Linked DNA regions of Homo sapiens: all the other regions are linked to region 3. Evidence: fine-mapped expression QTL. A gene starts in region 3. Each other region holds a variant in brackets. All regions are shown on one strand. Distances are from middle to middle.

Region 1 (8,175 bases), 75 kb before region 3:
ACATTGTAAAAATCGTATTCGATCAGGTCTCCTCCTCCTCGGCCCGCAGTCACTAGAACCCCCTCCCAAGACAAGCAAAGGCACCTGGTTTTCTGGGATCCCCTGCCTAACTTGTGTGCAATTGCAAGAAAGCATATGCGTTCACCCGGAGTCTTCCTTCCCTCTCTTGCTCCGTGGGAGCACACCACACTCACTGTTCTGCACCTCTTTGCTTTTTCCATTTAACAGCGTGTCCCTAGAGCGCTTCCCAAGTCAAAATATAAACACCGCTCGTTCCCGCCTTTCTACCACATGGCATTCCGCTGGGATACTTCTACGGGGAAGCTTCCTGCCCGGGGCATCGAGGGCGTTCGCGTCCGTCTGTTATGGCGGTGCTGCTGTAGATAACCGGATCCGCGAATGCTAACGCTCACCAGGATGCTATATAGCCTTTTTTATATTGCCTATCAAGCCCGGAATGTCTGGGTCTAGCGGGTATTGCTAAGTAGGATTGTGACAGTCACGCCCCCGGCAGCGGTGTTTCAAAGTCCCCTGACAGCTCAGCATGTTGTCACACTTCAGGACTGTGCCAATCCGATTGATGAAGAAAATAGATAATCTTGTTTTATAAAACGTGCATGCGCAGAATGTTGAGTGAATATTTTAGTGGACTATGTACACGCACAAACACTTCACAACGAGTGAGAGAGCCTCTGACTTCACCTGCAGCTTGCCACACCAAGGCCCCGGGGAGGAGTGAGGCCCAACTTTTATTTATTATATTTTTGTGGTTCTTGCAATGGAGTCTCGCTCTGTCCCCCAGGCTGGAGTGCAGTGGCACCATCTCTGCTCACTGCGACCTCCGCCTCCTGGGTTCAAGCGATTCTCCTGCCTCAGCCTCCCAAGTAGCTGGGATTACAGGCGTGCACCACCACGCCTGGCTAATTTTTGTATTTTTAGTAGAGACGGGGTTTCACCATGTGGGCCAGGCTGATCTTGAACCCCTACCTCAGGTGATCCACCCGTCTTGGCCTCCCAAAGTGCTGGGATTACAGGCGGGAGCCACTGCGCCCGGCCAGTCTTTTAAAAGTGCAGGCCGTGTAGAACATTGTGAGAAGTATAAACTGTAATTACAGAGATTTGCTGTTTGCACCCAGATAGATTTGAAGAAGCAACTTGGAGACAGGTTTAATAGATCAGGGCCATTATTACAGAAATAAATTATTGCATAGCTTAGGACTTCCAAGCTAGGAGTGCAGTGACTGAACTATACCTCAAATATTGACCTTGAGATGTTCAGATTTGTAGAGCATCTTAGAAAATGGTGACATTCCTGGCTGATGGTCAGGATGGTGCATACCAGGCCGGTACCCTGGTGGCTGTCTGGGCATTTCTGGAGCCTTCACCCTGCGAGATCCCCATGGGGCAGGACCCCCTGGCCCAGAAGCTTGGTTTTGCCATCACACCGAGAAGGCACACTTGTCCTGGAGTTAGTTTACATGAATCGAGCTCACCAGAGCCTGACGTGTAACTGAGTATAATAGCCCATTTATGTGCATGATGAAATATAAACACCAAAGAACCGAATGCTCCACGCTCGGACTAGCAGATTCTTATCTGTGGGGGAGGACACAGGAGCGGATGACACAGACCCCTGCTCAGGGACCGGCTAGAGGGCGGAATGCCTGGGCCCCGGCCCTGTCTGCTTCCTGCTTCTTCCCCGAAGTTCATGGCCTGTCCGTCCACATGGGCGGGAGGTGTCCCGCGAGCAGCCCTCACCCTGACCTTGGCTGCTTTCTCCATTCCATTCCCCACCCCTCCTCCCTCCTGACACCCATGGCATTTTTTCAGATAAGTTAATACCTTTGATTAGGTTCCAGCCAAACCTCACCCTTTCTCTTTCCCCATGCCTTTGTGTCTCTCTTCGTCTGATGTCGAGTCTACAACCTAATGCTTTGAAGACAGACTGACTTCCCCGTCCTTGGTCAGGGGGTTGCTGCTGCGTGGGGGGGGCGGTAACCATAATCTTGCCCCCGTGTCTCATACACAAGCTGCAAGCTTAGCTCAGAAGCTGTGCCTGTCTTGGCTGCTTTTTCTTGCTGTCTTCCCTATTTTTGCAGGAGTTTTGCACACGGTCATAAAAGTTCAGGAGAAACATGAAACGTGTTATTCTGTTTCCTGTTTAAGTCGACCTGAGGAAGCTGAAGGGGTCAGGCGCGGTGGCTCACGCCTGTAATCCCAGCTCTTTGGGAGGCCGAGGCGGGCAGATCACGAGCTCAGGAGCTGGAGATTGAAACCATCTTGGCTAACATGGTGAAACCCCGTCTCTACTAAAAATACAAAAAAACAGCCAGACCTGGTGGCGGGCACCTGTGGTCCCAGCTACTCAGGAGGCTGAGGCAGGAGAATCGCCTGAACCCGGGAGGTGGAGGTGGCGGTGAAGCAAGATGGTGCCACTGCACTCCAGCCTGGGTGACAGAGCGAGACTTCGTCTCAAAAAAATAAGAAAGAAAAAGAAAAAAAAGAGAGAGAGAGAGACAGAGAGAGAGAGAGAAAAAAAGAAAGAAAGAAAAGAAAAGAAAACTGAGGGCTTGCCCTAATCTCCTAGACTTCCTTTTCCCTCAGTCCTGATGATGGCAGAGACGACTCCTCAAAGGCTCTTCCCCTTGGCATGGAGTGCTGGAGCCTGCCCTAGGGAGGGAGGACAGGATGGAGCAAGACACTGAACGCAGAATTAGAGCTAGGCAACGAGCGGGTGATTTCACTGTTTCCTGGGTAACAAGCCCCAGGCTCAGCTCGGTCTGGTGTAGCCCCTCAAAGGGGACACTGTCCTTGCCCCCAGTTGATGGAGGAGGAAGGAGCGGAAGGCAGTGTGGGATGGGTTGGGTGTGGGCATTGCCACAGTGTCCCCAGCAGGCCTCCTTCTAGCCTGGGGATCTGGCAGGTGGGTCCCAGTCACCACCAATGCCCCATATACCCAAGGACACTGGTGACCCAGCAGACCTGAGGCCACAGACCAAAGACAGAGTAACAACCCCATTAAAAATGTGCCCCCATGGGCGGGCATAGTGGCTCCTGCCTGTAATCACAGTGCTTTGGGAGACTGAGGCAAGAGGATCCCTTAAGCCCAGGAGTTCAAGACCAGCCCGGGCAACATAGTAAAGTAAGACCTTGTCTCTAAAATAAAATATAAAAAATAGCCAGGTGTGGTGGTGTGTGCCTGTGGTCTCATCTACTTGGGAGGCAGAAGCAGGATGATCACTTGAGTCCAGGAATTTGAGGCTGCAGTGAACTGTGATTGCACGAATGCACTCCAGCCTGGGCAACAGAGCAAGACCCTGTCTCTCAAAAAATTTTTAATTAGCGGGGCATGGTGGTGTGCACCTGTAGACCTGTAGTCCCACCTACTCGGGAGGCTGGGTGGGAGGATTGCTTGAGCCCAGGAGGTCGAGGCTGCAGTGAGCCGAGATGGTGCCACTGCACTCCAGCCTGGGCAACAGAGCCAGAGCCTGTCTCAAAAAAATAAAAAAGTGTCCCCAGACACAGGGGCATGGGTGAGGCCTGTCAGGACTGCTGTGGTAGCTCATGGTGTCCTGTCCCTTCTTCCCACC[A/G]GGGAATGACCGTGGCTGTGGGCACACCCCCTGTCCATCTGGGCCTGCCTGTGGGAGCTGGACACTGCCCTCCCCAGCAGCCAGAAGTCCTGAAGGAACCGTGTGTGACCCTCAAGACCAGACCGGGCCTGCCACACCAACCCTTCAAAGACCGCAGCGGTCCAGGCAATCCAACGTGGGTCCCAAAGCTAGGTGAATAACCACGAGGAGCCCACGGTCAGCCCCTTCCCATCACATACGCAGGGAAATGGGTCACTTTCACTTTCAGAAAACAAAGCCTGGACCGCACTTAACTTGGAGGCAGATAACCTAATCAGAATTCACACACGCCTGGGACTTGGAGCCAAAAGCACCCGTGCTCTTACCTGCCTTTGTCCTATTTCCTGGCGGGAAATACAGAGGGCAGACAGGTCTTGGCCCGCAGCCACAGCCCCTTTACCCCAAGATGTGACTCGGTCAGCCACACGGCCTCACAGCCTCCTCCCAGGCCCTCAGCTGTGGCCACGGCAGCCAGGCAGGCCGACCCAAGGACAAAAGCCACGGGCAGTGTCCTGGGAGAGAACCCGGCCTTGACCACAGGCTGCTGGACACCTCCTGTGTCCCCCCCTTAATCCTCAGAGGCACGGTGCCCAATGCCTGGGCCATATTCCAGATTCCATCCGTTCTTTTTGTTTCATTTACAGACAGTCCCCGACGTCACGATTTTTGGACTTTACCATGGTATTAAAGCAACAGGCAGGCAACAGAAACTGGGCTTTGAGTCCCACACAACCTCCCTGGTTTTCAGCACGGTATTCAATAAATTACATGGATGCCCCACACTTTATTATCAAACAGGCTTCGTGTGAGATGATTTTGCCCACCTGTAGGCTCATGGGAGTGTCCTGAGCACGTTTGAGGGAGGCTGGGCTGAGCCGGGGTGCCTGGCAGGAAATCTGCAGGAAGTGCATTTTGGGTTTTTCAGCTTTTTTTTTTTTTTTTTTTTTTGAGATGAAGTTTCACTCTTGTCGCCCAGGCTGGAGTGCAATGGTGCGATCTCAGCTCACTGCAACCTCCACCTCCTGGGTTCAAGTGATTCTCCTGCCTCAGCCTCTCAGGTAGCTGGGATTACAGACATGCACCACCACCATGCCCGGCTGATTTTGTATTTTTAAAAGAGACGGGGTTTCACCATGTTGGCCAGGCTGGTCTTGAACTCCTGGCCTCAGGTGATCTGCCCCCACTTGGCCTCTGAAAGTGCTGGGAATTACAGGCGTGAGCCACGGCACCAGCCTGCATTTTGGACTTAGGATATTTTCAACTTACGATGGGTTTGCCGGGCTGCATCCCCACCGTAAGCTGAGGAGAACCTGTACTTTCTATTGGTGCCTGCTGATCTACGGAGTTTTTAAAGTACGATTTAAAAAAATAATAATCCTTATCAAGGATAAGTGATTGCGTTACAGGACATTTGAAAAACAGAGAAAAGGATTTAAAAATACCATCGACTTTCTCTTTTTGTGACAAGAAGACTCATTAGCATGTCAGCACACTCTCAGGCACACATTTCCCCGAGTGTTAGGAGTTCTGTTGCACAGTTTGTAACTGTATCTTTTTAAATTGGGCATCTTATTTTTATTGTCAAATTTAGACATTTATAAGGCTGCTCCTTCCTAAAAAAAGAAAATGAGTAACTTATTTACTTGAAGTCAGGATGACTGGGGATAATTTATGTACAAAATTGCATACCTCCAGCCCTGGCAACCGCTGTGCCGCCTTCTGTGCCTATAGCTCTGCCATTTCTAGAATGTCATATAAATGGAATCGCGCAGTCTGTAGCTTTTCTTGTCTGGCTTCTTCCACTTGGCATCATGCTTTTGAGACCCACCCATGTTGCAAGATCAGTAGTCTGTTCCTTTTTATTGTTGAATAGTATTCCCTTGCACGGATACATCAGATGTATTTGTCCATCCACCAACTGATGGACATTTGGCTTTTACCTTTGGAATACCGTGAAGAAAGCTGCTGTGGCTGTCCTGAAAAGATCTTTGCATGGAGACGTGTTTCCGTTTCTCCCGGGTAAATACAGGCGCATCTCGTTTCAGTGTGCCTCGCTTTCTCCTACTGCGTGGAATCGCTTTTGTTTGTTTGTTTGTTTGTTTGTTTGTTTGTTTTTGAGATGAGTTTCACTCTGTCACCCAGGCTGGAGTGCAGTGGGGCGATCTTGGCTCACTGCAACCTCCACCTCCCGGGTTCAAGCAATTCTCCTGCTTCAGCCTCCAGAGTAGCTGGGATTACAGGCACATGCCACCATGCCCTGCTAATTTTTTGTATTTTTTAGTAGAGACGGGGTTTCACTGTGTTAGCCAGGATGATCTCGATCTCCTGACCTCATGATCCACCCGCCTCAGCCTCCCAAAGTGCTGGGATTACAGGAATCGCATTTTTTACAAATTGAAGGTTGACGGCAGCTCCGTGTGGAGCAAGTCCACCGGCACCATCTCTCCAGCGGTGCGTGCTCACTTCCTGCCTCTGCACCACATGTTGGTCGTTCTCATAATATTTCAAACTTTTTCATTGTCATCGTCCGTTATGGTGATCTGTGATGAGTGACCTTTGATGTTAACTATTGTAATTGGTTTTTGGCAAAGCCACGAACTGCCCTTGTTTAAGACAGCAAACTGAATCAAGACATGTCGTGTGTGTACTGACTGCTCGCCGGCTGGCGTTCTTCCATTTCTGTCCCTCTCCTTGGGCCTCCCTATTCTCCAAGACTCAACAGTATTGAAATTAGGCCTACAATGGCCACTAAGTGCTCAAGTGAAAGGAAGAGTCTCATGCCTCTCACTTTATTTTTATTTTATTTATTTATTTTTGAGACACTCTGTCCCCCAGGCTGGAGGGCAGTGGCACGATCTTGGCTCATTGCAACCTCTACCTCCCGGGTTCAAGCGATTCTCCTGCCCCAGCCTCCCGAGTGGCTGAGATTGCAGGTGCCTGCCACCGTGCCCGGCTAATTTTTGTATGTTAGTAGAGACAGGGTTTCACCATGTTGGTCTCGAACTCCTGACGTCAAATGATCTGCCTGCCTCGGCCTCCCAAAGTGCCGGGATTACAAGTGTGAGCCAACGCTCCTGGCCGCCTCTCACTTTAAATCAAAAGTTAGAAATGATTAAGCTTCATGAGGAAGGCATGTCAAAAGCTGAGATAAGCCAAAAGCTAGGCCTCTTGCACCAAAGGGATAGCCAAGTTGTGAACACAAAGGAAAAGTTTTTGAAGAAAATTTAAAGTGCTGCTCTAATGAACACACAAAAGAAAGGGAAGCAGCCTAATTGCGCGTCTGGAGAAAGTTCAGGTGGTATGGACAGAAGATCAAACCTTCCGGCCGGGCGCGGTGGCTCACGCCTGTAATCCCAGCACTTTGGAAGGCCCAGGCAGGCGGATCACGAGGTCAGGAGATCAAGACCATCCTGGCTAACACGGTGAAACCCCGTCTCTACTAAAAATACAAAAAGTTATCCAGGCATGGCGGCAGGTGCTGAGGCAGGAGAATCACTTGAACCCAGGAGGCGGAGGTTGCAGTGAGCCGAGATCGCGCCACTGCACTCCAGCCTGGGCAACAGAGCGAGACTCTGTCTCAAAAAAGAGAATGCACCTGGTGGGCATGCTAGCTCAAGTAATCTCAGCACTTTGGGAGGGCAAGGTGAGAGAATTGCTTGAGGCCAGGAGTTCTAGACCAGCCTGGGCAACATAGCAAGAGCCTGTCTCTAAAACCGAAAAAAGGAAAGAAAGAAAATGTACCTGGTCACCCAAGAGTTTTGATGGAGCTGGAGCTGTGCAAGATGAATGTTGTTTCCACACCTGTAACACAGCATTTATTCTGCAACCCATGGGTTGAGGAGTAATTTCAACTTTCAAGTCTTACTATTGCAGTAATACAGTCTGTAAAGCTATAGCTGTCATAGATAGTGATTACTCTGATGGATCTGAGCAAAGTAAGTTGAAAACCTTCTGGAACAGACTCACCATTCTAGATAACGTTAAGGATATTCGTGATTCATGAGAGGAGGTCAAAATATTACTCTTGGTTTTTTTGAGGTGGAGTCTTGCTCTGTTGCCCGGGCTGGAGTGCTATGGTACGATCTTGGCTCACTGCAGCCTCTGCCTCCCGGATTCCAGTAATTCTCTTGCCTCAGACTTCTGAGTAGCTAGGATTACAGGTCCTTACCACCACACCTGGCTAATTTTTTATATTTTTAGTAGAGATGGGGTTTCAACCGTGTTGGCCAGGCTGGTCTTGAACTCCTAACCTCAAGTGATATGCTCACCTCAGCCTCCCAAAGTGCTGGGATTACAGGCATGAGCCACCTCAGCCTCCCAAAGTGCTGGGATTACAGGCATGAGCCACCGTGCCTGGCCCAAAATATTACTTTTTTTTTTTTTTTTTTTGAGGTGGAGCTTCTCTTTTGTCGCCCAGGCTGGAGTGCAGTGGCACGATCTCAGCTCACTGAAAACTCCACCTCCCAGGTTCAAGCAATTCTCCTGCCTTAGTCTCCCAAGTGGCTAAGATTAGAGGCACCTGCCACTACGCCCAACTAATTTTATT
Region 2 (8,152 bases), 38 kb before region 3:
CTCAGCTGCGGTGCCCAGGATTCCCCACTGTGGTATGTCCGTGCACCAGTCAATAGGAAAGGGAGCAAGGAAAGGTACTGGGTCCCCCTAAGGACATACGAGTTGCCAGAATCACTTCCGCTGACACCCAGTGGACCAAGCCGCACCTTTATGCAGAAGTGGGGCTCCCAGCCAGGCGTGGTCACTCCTGAAATCCCAGCACTTCGGAAGGCCAAGGGGGGTGGATCACTTGAGCTCAGGAGTTCGAGACCAGCCTGGGTAACATGGCAAAATCCCGTCTCTACAAAAATACAGAAAATTAGCTGGGTGCGGTGGTGTGTGCCTACAGTCCCAGCTACTCAGGAGGCTGAAGTGGGAGGATTGCTTGAGTCTGGGAGGTGGAGGTTGCAGTGAGCCAGGATCTCACCACAGCACTCTGGCCCAGGCGACAGCTGTTTGGCCTGTTTCAAGTGTCTACCTGCCTTGCTGGTCTTCCTGGGGACATTCTAAGCGTGTTTGATTTGTAACATTTTAGCAGACTGTGCAAGTGCTCTGCACTCCCCTGCTGGAGCTTTTCTCGCCCTTCCTTCTGGCCCTCTCCCCAGTCTAGACAGCAGGGCAACACCCACCCTGGCCACCTTACCCCACCTGCCTGGGTGCTGCAGTGCCAGCCGCGGTTGATGTCTCAGAGCTGCTTTGAGAGCCCCGTGAGTGCCGCCCCTCCCGCCTCCCTGCTGAGCCCGCTTTCTTCTCCCGCAGGCCTGTAGGAGCTGTCCAGGCCATCTCCAACCATGGGAGTGAGGCACCCGCCCTGCTCCCACCGGCTCCTGGCCGTCTGCGCCCTCGTGTCCTTGGCAACCGCTGCACTCCTGGGGCACATCCTACTCCATGATTTCCTGCTGGTTCCCCGAGAGCTGAGTGGCTCCTCCCCAGTCCTGGAGGAGACTCACCCAGCTCACCAGCAGGGAGCCAGCAGACCAGGGCCCCGGGATGCCCAGGCACACCCCGGCCGTCCCAGAGCAGTGCCCACACAGTGCGACGTCCCCCCCAACAGCCGCTTCGATTGCGCCCCTGACAAGGCCATCACCCAGGAACAGTGCGAGGCCCGCGGCTGTTGCTACATCCCTGCAAAGCAGGGGCTGCAGGGAGCCCAGATGGGGCAGCCCTGGTGCTTCTTCCCACCCAGCTACCCCAGCTACAAGCTGGAGAACCTGAGCTCCTCTGAAATGGGCTACACGGCCACCCTGACCCGTACCACCCCCACCTTCTTCCCCAAGGACATCCTGACCCTGCGGCTGGACGTGATGATGGAGACTGAGAACCGCCTCCACTTCACGGTGGGCAGGGCAGGGGCGGGGGCGGCGGCCAGGGCAGAGGGTGCGCGTGGACATCGACACCCACGCACCTCACAAGGGTGGGGTGCATGTTGCACCACTGTGTGCTGGGCCCTTGCTGGGAGCGGAGGTGTGAGCAGACAATGGCAGCGCCCCTCGGGGAGCAGTGGGGACACCACGGTGACAGGTACTCCAGAAGGCAGGGCTCGGGGCTCATTCATCTTTATGAAAAGGTGGGTCAGGTAGAGTAGGGCTGCCAGAGGTTGCGAATGAAAACAGGATGCCCAGTAAACCCGAATTGCAGATACCCCAGGCATGACTTTGTTTTTTTGTGTAAGGATGCAAAATTTGGGATGTATTTATACTAGAAAAGCTGCTTGTTGTTTATCTGAAATTCAGAGTTATCAGGTGTTCTGTATTTTACCTCCATCCTGGGGGAGGCGTCCTCCTCCTGGCTCTGCAGATGAGGGAGCCGAGGCTCAGAGAGGCTGAATGTGCTGCCCATGGTCCCACATCCATGTGTGGCTGCACCAGGACCTGACCTGTCCTTGGCGTGCGGGTTGTTCTCTGGAGAGTAAGGTGGCTGTGGGGAACATCAATAAACCCCCATCTCTTCTAGATCAAAGATCCAGCTAACAGGCGCTACGAGGTGCCCTTGGAGACCCCGCATGTCCACAGCCGGGCACCGTCCCCACTCTACAGCGTGGAGTTCTCCGAGGAGCCCTTCGGGGTGATCGTGCGCCGGCAGCTGGACGGCCGCGTGCTGTGAGTTCTGGGCTCTGTGCCAGCATGATGGGGAGGGCGACGCGCATTTCTCACACGGCAGGGAGGGCCACACGCGTTTGTTTCTCACACGATGGGCAGGGCGACACATGTTTGTTTCTCACACGGCGGGGAGGGCGACGGGCATTTCTCACAGGGCGCTCCCTGGGTCTTTTACTCACATAGGTCTAAATCCCATGTAAACACGTGTTCAGGACTCACCAAGCCCCTGCTTGTCATTTAACTCAGGAAAACTCTCAGGAACGACAGCACTTGGATTTGCCTTAATCTTAAGAGAAGTTGCCTTCGGAAATGCGTTTTTCTTTTTTTGCTCATTCATTTACTCAGTGTCCACGCACTGACCCTCCGTGCCGGGTGGTTTGGATCCTGCTCCCGGGGACAGACACACAGTGAGGGGAAGCCATAAGCAAGTCCATGCAGACACAGCGTCAGGGAGTGGTCATGCAGAGAGCACGCTAGAAGCCAGCTGTGCAGACACGGGGCAGGGAGGTCCCCTCTAGAAGCCAGCTGTGCAGACGCAGGGGACAGGGATGGCCTCTCTGGAAGCCAGCTGTGCAGATGTTGGGGGCAGGGGTGGCCTCTCTGGAAGCCAGCTGTGCAGGAGTGGGGGGTGGGGAGGCCACTCTGGAAACCAGCTGTGCAGATGCAGGGGACAGGGGTGGCCTCTCTGAGCTGACCTCTGAGTAGAGAGACCCAAGAGAAGTTTCTCAAAGCATCTTATCAAGCTAGGTATGGTGGTTCATGTCTGCAATTCCAGCACTTTGGGAGGCCAAGGCGAGAGGGTCACTTGAGCCCAGGAGTTCAAGACCATCCTGGGCAACATAGCAAGACCCCATCTCTTAAAAAATAAAAATAAAAAATTAGCTGGGAATTGTGGCACATGCCTGTGGTCCCAGCTACTCAGGAGGCTGAGGCAAGAGGATCCCTTGAGCCCAGGGGTTCGAGGTTGCAGTGAACCATGATTTTGCCACTGCACTTCAGCCTTGCTGAAGACCCCGTCTCAAAAAACAAACAACAAACAGGCATCTTATCAGATCTCGGTCTTGAAAGCACTCAGCGTAGTCTTGCCCAGGGGAGGGTGGGTGCGGTGTGAGCCCGTCCTGCGAAATTAGCTGTGCTGTGTTAACAGAGGACGCGTCTTCCTGTGGACCGGGTTTATCTGCGGCTTTCATTTCTCGGAGGTGCTGTTTGCCTTGCACTTGACCCCCAGCAAACCTCAGGGGTCCTTCTCAGGCATGGCTGGGCTGGGATCTGGGAGGACTTTGGCCACAAGCTCCTAGGCCTGGAAAGGTTCTGTTCAGCCCCTGCCCAGCCTTGCTTGGGGTCATGGGACAGGCATGTGTGCCAGTTCCGGTACCAGCCAGTTCCTGGAGGTCAGCCCCTTGGGGGCCCCTCAGGGGTGGTGTGGGCCCAGCCAGGCGGTGCGCCTCTTCTGATATGCCCTGAGAGTTGATCACGCTGGTGCCAGGGTGCCAAGGGCTGCAGGGCTCGGCACGGCCGCCTGTCCCAGGGTCAGTGTGCTGCAGGGCTGGCCAGGCCACTCCGCCCTCCCAGGGCACCAGGGCCCGGGGGTGCTCTCTGGGTGCTCTCAGGCTCGTGTGGCCCCTTGGGTGTGAGCAAGCCTGGCTGGCCTCTGTCCCGCAGGCTGAACACGACGGTGGCGCCCCTGTTCTTTGCGGACCAGTTCCTTCAGCTGTCCACCTCGCTGCCCTCGCAGTATATCACAGGCCTCGCCGAGCACCTCAGTCCCCTGATGCTCAGCACCAGCTGGACCAGGATCACCCTGTGGAACCGGGACCTTGCGCCCACGGTACAGCGGCGGGCGGCGGGCGGGGGCACTGAGCTGGGGAGCGCAGGTGCTGAAGCGCCGTCTCCTGCATGTCCCAGCCCGGTGCGAACCTCTACGGGTCTCACCCTTTCTACCTGGCGCTGGAGGACGGCGGGTCGGCACACGGGGTGTTCCTGCTAAACAGCAATGCCATGGGTAAGCTGCCCGCCGCCCAGCGCCCGGGCCGGGGTCTCCTCCGTGCTGCCTGCCCTGGAGACTGGAGGTCCGCATGAGGGGCCCTGGGCACGGTGCTGGGCCTTGTGTTTTCTGGGAAATGAGTCCTATGGGCTGATGCCTCTCCCAACTCTGGCCTTCTGTGCTCCTAAGGAGGGTTCTGGGGCCCTGCCTGGAGGTGGGCTGGCACCACATATCTTTCCGTCCCATGCCAGGTTCCTCCTGAGTCAGGCTTAGCACGGCTTCCCCAGGCCACTCTGAGCTCCTCGTGGGGAGAGAGCCTCAACTCTCCGCCTGTGATTGGCCCATCTGTGGGGTGCAGAGCCCTCCAAGTGAAGAATCTGTCCCCCAACCCCAGAGCTGCTTCCCTTCCAGATGTGGTCCTGCAGCCGAGCCCTGCCCTTAGCTGGAGGTCGACAGGTGGGATCCTGGATGTCTACATCTTCCTGGGCCCAGAGCCCAAGAGCGTGGTGCAGCAGTACCTGGACGTTGTGGGTAGGGCCTGCT[C/T]CCTGGCCGCGGCCCCCGCCCCAAGGCTCCCTCCTCCCTCCCTCATGAAGTCGGCGTTGGCCTGCAGGATACCCGTTCATGCCGCCATACTGGGGCCTGGGCTTCCACCTGTGCCGCTGGGGCTACTCCTCCACCGCTATCACCCGCCAGGTGGTGGAGAACATGACCAGGGCCCACTTCCCCCTGGTGAGTTGGGGTGGTGGCAGGGGAGGCAAGGGGCTGGCCGGGACGCGTCTCCTCAGGCCCCAGCAGACGGTCCCGTGTTGTGGCTGCAGGACGTCCAGTGGAACGACCTGGACTACATGGACTCCCGGAGGGACTTCACGTTCAACAAGGATGGCTTCCGGGACTTCCCGGCCATGGTGCAGGAGCTGCACCAGGGCGGCCGGCGCTACATGATGATCGTGGTGTGTGCCCCCACACTGTGGGTCTTTGGGAAGGGGGCCGCCCGGTGCCCAGTGGCTCCTTCTCTGTGCAGCGTCATCCTCGTGCCTGTGTGGTCGCCGAGGATGTTTTCTGAGGGTCTTTGTGATATCGAGGGAATATCAAGAAGTTTGCAGGCTTGGCCCCAGCTGTCCAGGGAGGTCGGGTTTGAGGGTCCCCAGAAATGGCCGGGTGCTACTCAGGGTTCTGTCAGATGTAGGTTACTTGAACTGCCTTAAAGCAAAAGGCCAGGGGCATGATAAACTGATGTCACCTGGTCCTGGAAAGTGGAGGGCCCGGTGGGCCTGGGCATGGGTATCGCTGGAACTGTGGAGGCTCCGTGTGCCTTCTGGCCGTGCCTCTCCTTCTGGCCGGCTCTGAATCCCTGGAAAGGACGGCGTGAGTGAGGGCAGCTTCCAGCCCTCATGCTGGCACCACAGAGCGGAGACTTCTTCCCATCAGCTCCCATAGAAAAGTCCCAAAGCAGGACTCTTGAGTCACCCAGCACAAAGAGGCCCTTCCCTGAGCCAGTCCCACAGCCAGAAGGATGCAGTTTGGGGGCTGGTCCAGCCCGAGTCTGGTGTCCGGCACGATGGCCAGAGGAGGAGGTGGGAGGCAGGGCGAGCTGAAAAGATCCAACAGTTCCTGCCCGGAAGATCCACTTCAGCAGAGGAAGCACAGATGAGATGTGGGGCTGTGCTGATGCTGCCTGTTTCCATCCCTGCCTTCTGCAGGCAGCAAACAGTAGTAGCCCTTAAGAGCAGGAGTGGAAACACAGACTTTTTTCTTTCTCACATTTTTTTAATTATAAAAGAAAAGTGATTACTGTAGAACACTTGGGAAACTCTAGAGGTTTAAAGAAAAGGTAAAGGTAAAGCTTCCATTCCGGCGCGCCCCTCATCAGCCAGCTGGTCCTGACTCGCCCGGCCCTGGCTCCTCTCCAGGCAGGCGTGTGCAGGCATGTGCAGGTACACAGGCAGGCATGCTGTACACACGCATGATGTCATCCCCAGCCTCATCCTCTCACTGTCTCAGTTTTCCCCGTGGCTGGCGCCAGGGCTCTGGGCCACCCTCACCTTGACAGGTTTCCCTCTTCCCAGGATCCTGCCATCAGCAGCTCGGGCCCTGCCGGGAGCTACAGGCCCTACGACGAGGGTCTGCGGAGGGGGGTTTTCATCACCAACGAGACCGGCCAGCCGCTGATTGGGAAGGTAGGGCGAGGGTCCAGGGGACGGGGGTTAGAAAGCAGAGGCCTCCAGCCAGGGGGAGCCGGCAGCTGCTCAGGAAGACGGTGGGATTTGAGGAGCCATCACGCCCAGTGGGACAGCTGAGAGGAATGGGCCACAGTGGCCCGTGACGATGGTGGCTCCTACAAGGAATGGCCCCGTGAGTTCTTCCATCAGCAGGCCTTTGACTTCATGGGCAGCTGGGCCTGGCCCAGGCACAAGCCCTGCAGACCCTCAGTGAGGCCTTAGGGTCCTCCTTGTCCTCCCAGCCCCCCAGGGGCCTCCAGGCAGGGCCCCCGCTGAGGGAGCAGCTAGGGAGGGTCTGGTGCGGATGTGAGGCTGCCTGGCAGGGCTTGCACGGGGCCGTCTCCGCTGCCCTTCTCCCTGACGCTCTCTGGTTCTGCAGCCCAGCCCCTGGGTGGACGTGTTGGGGGTGACCCCTCGTTTTCCCAGGGTTGAGGCCCCTTGGCCCCGCATCAGTGCCTTGTGGAGAAAGAGCTGCTCATTGACCTCCAGGGTGCAGGTCTCTCAGATTTGCAAATGTGGGCGTCCACTAAGAGTGAGGCTGCCCCTCTGCTCAGGCTGAGGCTCAGTGGGGCTTCCATGCAGGCCCTGGGTGGGGCCGGGTCTCCCCACTGCAGCCTCTCGTTGTCCAGGTATGGCCCGGGTCCACTGCCTTCCCCGACTTCACCAACCCCACAGCCCTGGCCTGGTGGGAGGACATGGTGGCTGAGTTCCATGACCAGGTGCCCTTCGACGGCATGTGGATTGTAAGTGTGGCCCCCTCCTGAGCATCCCCAAGGCCTCTGGGGACTACCCCACCCTCCTCACTCTGGGCAGAGTCACCTACCAGCAGCGCTTCTCTTGCAGGACATGAACGAGCCTTCCAACTTCATCAGGGGCTCTGAGGACGGCTGCCCCAACAATGAGCTGGAGAACCCACCCTACGTGCCTGGTCAGCTCGCCCCCCACCTACCCTGGGGACTTAATCAAATCAGAGACTCCCTTGTCTGGCCTGGGAGACTTAGCACCCTCATCTCTGAGAAGCAGATGGGCCAGCGGGGAAAGGGGCGGGGGGGGGATCCCCAGGAGAAAGGCTCAGGCTGGGAGACTCAGCCAAGCAGTGCAGACAGGGTGGGTGCAGAGGCACAGGCCCTGCCGGAGGAGACGCCGCTCACAGGTGCTTGCCAGAGCACAGTGAGGCCGACTCGACTCAGAGCCGTCTCGATAGGCGCAGGGACCATGCAGCGGAGACCTACCCACCCGTGGGGAGAGGTCAGGCCCAACTCGAATGCAGCACGGGCAAGTGGATTTCTAGCCAGGGAGCAGGGTGGGCTCAGAGGCAGGAATTACCAAGAAGAAGCATGGGGGTCAGGGGGATTCTGGCTGAACTGACCCAGCAGGATTCTTGCTGAAGGCAGGCCAGGGTGACCAGACATCGCCTGAGGGGTGGTGGAGGTTGGGGCTTCTCGCCAAACTGTCTTAGCAGGAATGGCAGAAACTGGGTTTTACAAGGAAGTACAAGGATGGGCCTGGGAGAAGGTTTGGGGGCCTGAGGCTATAGTTTGGCCCAGCAAAGAATCAGTGAGAGGATGGGGTTTTGGGCTTAGGTAAACAGGCAGGGGAGTGCTTGAAATGGGCCAAGAGACGGTGGATGTGAAGTCTGGGGGTCTGCAGAGCCCAGGCTCCAGCACCCGCCCAGCCCTGTCTTAGAAGCAGTGGAGATGATTACCCAGGTTCCCGGGTAACGCCAGCCCCACAGAGGCGTGGGGAGCGGCTGCAGGTGCACCTCCAGGGCCAGCCTGAAGAGGCAGCGACCTGCACAGGGGCTCCTGGGAGGTGGGGGGCAGGGAGGGCACCTTGGAGCCTGCCGGGAGGAAGCTCCCTGGAAACCAGCC
Region 3 (8,175 bases):
TCAGAAAAAGGAGGACTCCCCTTTATCTAAATACAACTCTTTTCCTTCTAGGATTTTGGACTAACTCTCTCTTCCAAAGAAATTTTTGTGTAAATGAGTCTTTTTTGAAATTAGGCAAACGAGGAATAAAGCTATTAAAAGAGGATTTGTGGTGCTAGGAGATATGGCTATATACAAGTTTTCATCCATAGTTCCTGGCTCACAGCTCCCATAGCCCTTATTACAGTCTTATTAAATTGATGGGTTAGGCCTCAGGAAACAATCTCTCTGACCTTCTGCTCTCCTTTCACCTGCTCCACAGCAGGGCTCTAATCTTCCCTGCCTTTCAGATTGTGAGTCATAAAGACCCTCATGTCACGGCGTGGTGGCTCAGGCCTGTATTCCCAACACTCTGGGACGCAGAGGCAGCATTAATTGAAGCCAGGAATTCGAGACCAGCCTGGGCAATACAGCAAGAGACCCCATTTCTAAACAAAACAAAAAACTAACCAGGAACGGTGGCACATTCTGGCAGTCCCAGCTACTTGGGAGGTTGAGGCGGGACGATTCCTTAATCCTCGAAGTTAGAGGTTGCAGTGAGCTATGACTGCACCACTGCATTCCCGCCTGGGTGACGAAGTGAGGCCCCATATCTTAACAAAAAAAATGTTTAGGCCGGGCACAGTGGCTCACGCCTGTAATCCCAAGGCTTTGGGAAGCCAAGGCAGACAGATTGCCAGGAGTTTGAGAGCAGCCTGGGCAACACAACAAAACCCTGTCTCTACAGAAAATACAAAAATTAATTGGGCATGGTGATGTGTGCCTGTAGTCCCAGCTACTTGGGAGGGTGAGGTGGGAGGATCGCTTGAGGCTGCTATGAGCTGTAATCACACGACTGCACTCCAGTCTGGGAGACAGAGTAAGACCCTGTCTCGAAAAATGTAAAAAATTTAAATTTCAAATTTTTTTTTAAAAAGCATTATGGTATTATCCCAGAAAAGCTCCTGCCCTATTCCCTTATGGGGGAAAGAATGCTGACCTCATGGAATTTTCCATAAAAACCCAAGAGGACTGGGTTCGAAGAGCTTCTAGATGGCTGAACACAGACAGTGGAACACAAGGAGGTTCCGGGAGGTGACCACCCGCCCCTTGGAGGCTGCACCCCTCCCCCCATATCTGTATCCTCTGCAGTACCCTTTATAATAAACCACTAAATGTGTTTCCCTGAGTTCTTTGAGCTGCTGTTCCAGCAAATTAATCCAACCTAAAGAGGGGATCCTGGGAACCCAACTTGAAGCTGCTTGGTCAGAAGTTCTAGAGATCCGAACTTATAACTGGTGTCTGAAAAGAGGGTAGTCATGGGGACTGAGCCGTCAACCTGCAGGATATGGCCTATCTCCAGGCAGGTGGTGTGAGTTGAACTGGAGGACACCCAGCTGGAAAAGCCCCACACCTCTGCTCACAGAAGTCTTCTTCTGTGCTGATGACTGTTGTGGTGGTGTGAGAGCAGAGGAAAAGCACAGTCTGTTTTTCCGAAATTGTGTTATATACAATTCCACATGCCAGCAAACCACTAAGCAAAGCTGGCTAAGAAAATGAAAGCCTTGGCCGGGCGCAGTAACTCATGCCTGAAATCCCAGCACTTTAGGAGGCCAAGGAGGGTGGATCACCTGAGGTCAGGAGTTTGAGACCAGCCTGACCAACATGGTGAAACCCCCGTCTCTACTAAAAATATGAAAATTAGTCGGGCATGGTGGTGCATGCCTGTAATCCCAGCTACTTGGGAGGGTGAGGCAGGAGAATAGCTTGAAACTGAGAGGCAAAGGTTGCAGTGAGCCGAGATGGCACCACTGCACTCCAGCCTGGGCAACAGAGCGAGACTCCATCTCAAAAAGAAAATGAAAGCTTTCCACAGTAGAGAACACAAATTTAAAAAAGTATTAAACCCTGTGGCTAAAGTCAGGGAAAGTGTTGGAACTGAGCGTGTACAAGCTGAGGGAAACAGTCATCCCAGAGCATCTAACTGCACTGCGCTGCCCAAATTTACATCCAGCCCTGCGCCGCACCCCAGGACAACTTACTGTGCGATGACATCTCTCCCTTTGATGATCTGCTTGATTGCTCGTTGCTGGATTGCTGATGGTTTTTCAAAACCTGCAAATAAAAACAAAAAATTAGCCCTCACCACAATGACAGCATAGAAACCCTGTACTGTGAGCTCCTCAGGGGCAGACATGGTTTGTTTTTTGAACCTGTCCTCCAGCCTAACCCAGTGTTCAACATAGCAAGCTCTCAAAACCCAGGGGCTCAATGAATTGGGCTGAGTGATTTCTACACTAACGTGGGATATTATTTGTAAAGACCAATCTCTATTTTTAAAAAACCACCAAATTGTAGAATATAGACAACAGTTTTGTTTAAAAAAAAAAAAAAATCTGGGTGTGCAGCATCTGGAAGTGTAAGTGCCAAAATGTTCCTGGCAGTTACTGCAGTAGAGGGGTGGAAAGAAACTTACTTTTTACTCTAATTACTCCCTTAGGTTTGACTGGATTACAAACAACCTATACTACTTTTTAAATTAAAAAAAAAAACAACAAAAAAACAGGAAAGTCACTCTAGCCATTGTTCTCTCCTACTAGCTAGCATTAAGTCTGTGTGTTGCTGACAGGTCTACAACTCTGTTTAACCTGCGTGGGTCACGCTGCAGGGTGTCCTATGTTGTTCTGTCTGGATGCAGCTCACTAACTACAACACCATCACACCATCTCTCTTGCAAAGCAACTACTACACCAAAGGGTGAGGCTATTTTGAAGAAGAACCACGTGTTTTTCAAGTAAATAAAATTTTATGTACAAAAACTCTATTTCAATTATTTTTTGGTAGTCTCTTAAATGTAGCTCTGCTCAGTTCTGGGGCATAGCGAAAAATAAGAAACAAAAGAAAATGTAGCACAATTTCCCATCTTAACACAAATGCAAATATAGCAGATGATTTAAACTCTTCATGAAGAGCAAGCACATAGATGGGAAACTAACAACAGTGTCTTAGGGCAGGGACTGCCTGAGTGCCAGGAAACCAGGTGGGGCTGTCAGCCTCACTGTGAGGCTGCCTGAGATGCTTTTTCACCACGCATCCTCAGCAACTTCGCTTCACTTTGTCCAAACTGTTGTGGCATCAAGAACTACAGGATACGGCCAGGTGGGGTGGCTCACACCTGTAATGCCATCACTTTGGGAGGCTGAGGCTGGTGGATCACTGAGGTCAGGAGTTCAAGACCAGCCTGGGCAACATGGCAAAATCCCCTCCCTACTAAAAATACAAAAATTAGTAGGACGTGGTGGCCCACACCTATAATCCCAGCTACTCGGGAGGCTGAGGCAAAGGAATCGCTTGAGCCCCAGAAGTGGAAGTTGCAATAAGCTGAGATCATGCCACTACACTCCAGCCTTGGTGACAAGAGCAGGACTGTCAGAAGGAAAAGGAAGAAAGAAAAGGAAGAGAACTACAGGATAAAAAATGTCCCTGTCCCAAGCATTAAACACAGGCCATTTATCCCAGATGCTGGTCATTCCCATCTATGTGCCCAACCCAACCTCTTCTCCAGGCTCTCCCTCAACTTCCTCACATCTTTCAAACATACCAAGAGACAGCTCCTGATTCTGACTCTCTGGAGTGCTGCCTACCTAGCCAAATGTTTGCAGCATCAACCACCGGTTACTCAAAACACTCCAACTCTCCTCCTTCTGTCACTCACGTTCAATCCATCAGCCAATGCTGTCAGCTCCCTGGTACTCCATCTCCAAGGCAGCACAATCCTCTCTTCCCTGAACTGCAGCAAAAGCTCCCAACTCTCTTGTTTCCTCTCCTGCCTTGCCTCGCCTCACCTCAAATCTACAGACACCCAGAAGAATCTTTAAAACTGTAAATGTGATCGTGTCACATAGCTACTTAAAACCTTCCACTGGCTTCCCACTAGATTTCTAAATGAAATTCAAATTATTCGTCACCCTACACGTCTTTGCTAGATCTGCCCCGACTAGCTCTCCAAAATCCCACCACAGGGGACTTCTTTCAGTTCCTGGAATGCAGCTGGCTAAGGGCTGCAAGGCCCTGGCACCAGCTGTTCCTTCTGCCCCAACTGCTCTTCCCTCTTCTCATAACAGTCTCCTTCATCCAGAACTCTGCTCAAATGGCACCCCCTCCTGCGAACCCCCTTACCTCTCTGCTTTACTAATTCTCTCCTCCTTCCCAGTCCCACTCTATTCAATTACCCCGCTTCAGGTTCTTCAGGTTGCCTGGGCAACCTGACAGTATGCTTTCCCCCCAAACGAAATTCAAAACCCGTAAAGGCGCAAACCCTTCCGGTTTACCGCCAAAACCCCAGTACCTAGAAAAGCTAATAGGTAGAAATCAGTTATCTGCTGAATGAAGGACGCTGAGGTGCCTCGAAGCGGCTGCAGCCCCCGACAGACCCAGCGCCGAGCTCTGCACGGGGGACACACACCGAAAGCGCCGACACAGCCAGGCGTGAGGGCGAGGACGGGGGTGGGGGTGGGGGTCGGACGTCACTGGCCCCCGAGCCTCGACCCTGACCACGACCTCCGGAGCGCAGGGCCGGCCCGGGAGTCACCAGTCTGGCCCTCAGCCCCCGGCTCGCCCCCGACTCGCCCCCGGCTGGCCCCCGCGGCCCGCGCCCGCTCACCGTAAGCGTAGATGCCCCGCAGCAGGTCCTCCCGCAGGCCCATGGTGTCGAACGTGGGGGTCACATCCACCTCCTCGCTGGTCTCGAATTCCACTTTAGTCATGTCTTCCTCTTTGAGCAGCCGCTTTCGCGCCGAGCCCGAGGTCGCCATCGTGGCCGTGGTCGCCATGATTCAGAGTCCGCGGAAGAGCACAGCGCGCGCCGCTGCCGACCTCGCTGCCGCTGCCGACCTCGCTGTGCCGCTGCCGACCTCGCTGCCGCTGCCGACCTCGCTGTGCCGCTGCCGACCTCGCTGTGCCGCTGCCGACCTCGCTGTGCCGCTGCCGACCTCGCTGTGCCGCTGCCGAGAACAGACGCCTTAAGTATGCGAAAGCGAGAGACGTGCGTGCGTACGTGCGTACGTGCGTACGCGCGACGCGGCCACGCCTCTGGGGGACGGGGCACTCTTCGTCACGTGAAAGGGAACTGGGCGTTTGCCGCAGGGAAAAGTAAGGTGTTTCTGCTCTCGCGCCATATGCAGTTCCCGCGGGATCTCGTTGAGGGCGGGGCACCCAGTTCCTTACGAAAGGGATGGAGGGGGTGGTACTTCTAAAGTTGGCGGTGTTTCGTACCGGCCGCGGGATTTCGCGGACTGGGGCGCTGAGGTTCTTTGAGCGGCGTGTGGACCTGAATTCCCTGGAAACAGGCTGGGGCCGCGAGGGGCCTCCGCTCCGGGCGGGGTCCCCAGATAGCCCCGCCTCGAATAAAAATGACGAGCACGGGTCCTCTCTCGGGCCCGCAGTGGGTGGACTGCGTCGCAGACCCGTAGTGGAGGCGCCCAGCTCGCCGGGGAGATTCGAGTGGAAACCCTCACGGCCGCCGGTGGTGGGCCCCGGCGCGGCGCTGGGCTCCGGCGGGTCTGCGCTGGGGAGGGCCAGGGCCCCTGAAGCCGGCGTCCCTCTTAGGGGACGCGCCTGGGTGTGTCTTCACCGTTTGCCTGGTGAGTTGGAGACAGGGTCTCGCTCCGTCGCCCAGGCTGGAGTGCAGTGGTAGGATCAGGGTTCATTGTAGCCTCCGCCTCAGCCTCTGGAGTAGCTGGGACCTCAGGCGCGCGCCACCACGCCCGGCTAATTTTTTAAATTTTTTTGTAGAGACGGGGTTGGGGGAGGCGGGGGTTAGGGTTGTCCTGGCTGGTCTTGAACTGCGGGGCCTCAGGTGATCCGCCTGCCTTGGCCTCCCAAAGTGCTGGGATTACAGGCATGAGCCACTGTGCCCGGCAAGCAGCTGTTATAAATAAAATACATGCTGAGCCTGCAATTTGCTCTTAATGAAGGCCACTTGTCAGTAGACGGTGCTGCTAATGCGTGTCCTGCAGCAAAGATAACCCAGACGGGATCATTTTTTAATTGCCCAGCAGAACTTTAACCAGTTGTGCATCTTAACCTGCTTTTTGTTTGTTCGTTTGTTTGTTTTGAGACAGTCTGGCCCTGTCGCCCAGGCTGGAGTGCCATGGCGCGATCTCGGTTCACTGCAGCCTCCACCTCCCGAGCACAGGCGATCCTCCCGCCTCAGCCTCCAGAGCACCTGGGACCACAGGTGTCCACGCGCAGCCACTAACCGCTTTCTTATCTGACACTTTAAGTGCTTCTTCGTACCCAGCTCCTCTAACGCCTTTTGAAGCAGCTCCATCATCTTTGAAGGGCAGTTCATGCTGTTGAGAATCATGTTTTTAACTTTGGGAAAATTGTATTTCCACGAGCGCCAGCTCTGTCCTTTTTTTTTTTTTTTTTTTTTTTTTTTTTTGACGGAGTCTTGCTCGGTTCGCCCAGGCTGGAGTGCAGTGTCGCGATCTCAGCTCACTGCAAGTTCTGTCGCCCAGGTTCACGCCATTCTCCTGCCTCAGCCTCCCAAATAGCTGGGACTACAGACACGCGCCACCACGCCCAGCTAATTTTCTGTATTTTTAGTATAGACCGGGTTTCACCATGTTGGCCAGGATGGTCTTGATCTCTTGACCTCATGATCCGCCCACCTCGGCTTCCCAAAGTGCTAGGATTACAGGCGTGAGCCACCGCGCCCCGCTATTTTGTGTGTGTGTGTGTGTGTGTGTGTGTGTGTGTGTGACAGAGTCTCGCTCTGTTCCCCAGGCTGGAGTGCAGTGGCGCAATCTTGGCTCACTGCAACCTCTGCCTCCCGGTTCAAGCGACTCCCCTTCCTCACCCTCCTGAGTAGCTAGGATTACAGGCATGCACCACCACGCCCGGCTAATTTTTGTATTTTTAGTAGAGATGGGGTTTCCCCGTGTTGGTCAGGCTGGTCTTGAACTCCTGACCTCATGATCTGCCCGCTTCAGCCTCCTAAAATGCTGGGATTACAGGCATGAGCCCGGTCCTGTCCTTTCTTATGGTCACAAATCTGGCTTGCATCGCTGGGCACATCTTTAATCCACAGCTTCTTTCTAGGAGTGCTTGAAAAGCTCTCCTTTTATGAAGGTTAATTTTAGTTAAAACCAGAGCATCCTGGCCAGGCCTGGTGGCTCACGCCTGTAATCCCAGCACTTTGGGAGGCCGAGGCAGACGGATCATGAGTGTAGGAGTTCGAGAACAGCCTGGCCAAAATGGTGAAACCCCATCTCTACTAAAAAAAAAATACAAAAATTAGCTGGCCGTGGTGACGGGTGTCTGTAGTCCCAGCTACTCTGGAGGCTGAGGCAGGAGAATCTCCTGAACCCCGGAGGTGGAGGTTGCAGTGAACCGAGATTGCGCCACTGCACTCCAGCCTGGGCGACAGAGACTCCATCTCAAAAATAAACAGAAAACCAGAGCATCCTTTTATCAAGAAGTCGGTGGATTGCAGTATTTCAAGGGTGAACAAGTAAATGCAGCCTTCTCCAAGAGTGAATCTCATTCTGGCACCAGAATTTATCCATGACAGATAATTGACCTTCTGATAAACATTCCTTGTAAGGATGCTGGTGTTACCCAAAATATTAAATATTTATAAAGCTGAATAAAATGTAAGTTCTGATACCTTCCTCACTCTACAAAGGATCATTTCGTGCCTCACACTGTTTGCCAGGCCGTGCTGTAGCGCTTTGTCGTAAAATACACACAGATTTCAATGACTTAACGTAGGAGAAGAATGTAAAATACCTTGTTGACTAAAGAAAAACAGTTAAGCTTTTAAAGAATTAAAGTTAGTTTTATTCAGAAGCCTTACTGAGGACCGTACATCCTGGCCCCAGCCCAGGAGCTCAAGCGATCCTCCTACCTCAGCCTCTCAAAGTGCTGGAATCACAGGTGTGAGCTACCAGGCCTCTCACCTTGTTCAAAGTTAAAATCTAATCCACAAACTGCTTAGATTTGTTTTCCTTCATATTTTTATGACTAGATGATCTAACATTTTACACCATTTTTCTGGAAATGTTGTTTATGCCAGGTGTCTGAACACACATCTTAAAGGGCTCTAACTTTTCTGGGGAGCAGTAGCTTTTTAGCCCAGAGTCTATGACAATG

Which allele goes with the higher level. Positions count from the first base shown, and alleles are read on the strand shown. Sizes are in standard deviations (SD) of each study's normalised expression. Not every link is listed here.
As copies of A replace G in region 1, the expression in tibial artery of the gene that starts at base 5,017 in region 3 goes up (moderate effect, 0.75 SD a copy in GTEx).

The links.
Region 1: its variant is fine-mapped to the expression of EIF4A3 in tibial artery (GTEx, PIP above 0.99).
Region 2: its variant is fine-mapped to the expression of EIF4A3 in whole blood (INTERVAL, PIP 0.93).

Annotation. Positions count from the first base shown.
Region 1 is chr17:80,067,277-80,075,451 of GRCh38, forward strand. All of the region lies in intron 10 of CCDC40 (coiled-coil domain 40 molecular ruler complex subunit), which reads left to right. It overlaps LOC124904074 (a long non-coding RNA gene), which reads right to left and starts at 4,260. Exons shown (of 2, transcript XR_007065931.1): 1 at 3,956-4,260. The variant A/G (reference allele first, on the strand shown) is at 3,591.
Region 2 is chr17:80,103,817-80,111,968 of GRCh38, forward strand. It overlaps GAA (alpha glucosidase), which reads left to right. Exons shown (of 20, transcript NM_000152.5): 2 at 739-1,316; 3 at 1,933-2,078; 4 at 3,741-3,906; 5 at 3,984-4,080; 6 at 4,474-4,593; 7 at 4,673-4,791; 8 at 4,881-5,012; 9 at 6,129-6,239; 10 at 6,911-7,024; 11 at 7,125-7,209. The coding sequence starts at 771. Among named protein-coding and RNA genes, the nearest start is that of GAA, 6.3 kb to the left of the region's middle. RefSeq lists an enhancer at 5,995-6,970. The variant C/T (reference allele first, on the strand shown) is at 4,606.
Region 3 is chr17:80,142,112-80,150,286 of GRCh38, forward strand. It overlaps EIF4A3 (eukaryotic translation initiation factor 4A3), which reads right to left and starts at 5,017. Exons shown (of 12, transcript NM_014740.4): 1 at 4,682-5,017; 2 at 2,061-2,133. The coding sequence starts at 4,850. RefSeq lists enhancers at 4,244-4,958, 4,959-5,671, 5,672-6,385, 6,386-7,098 and silencers at 4,596-4,645, 5,486-5,675.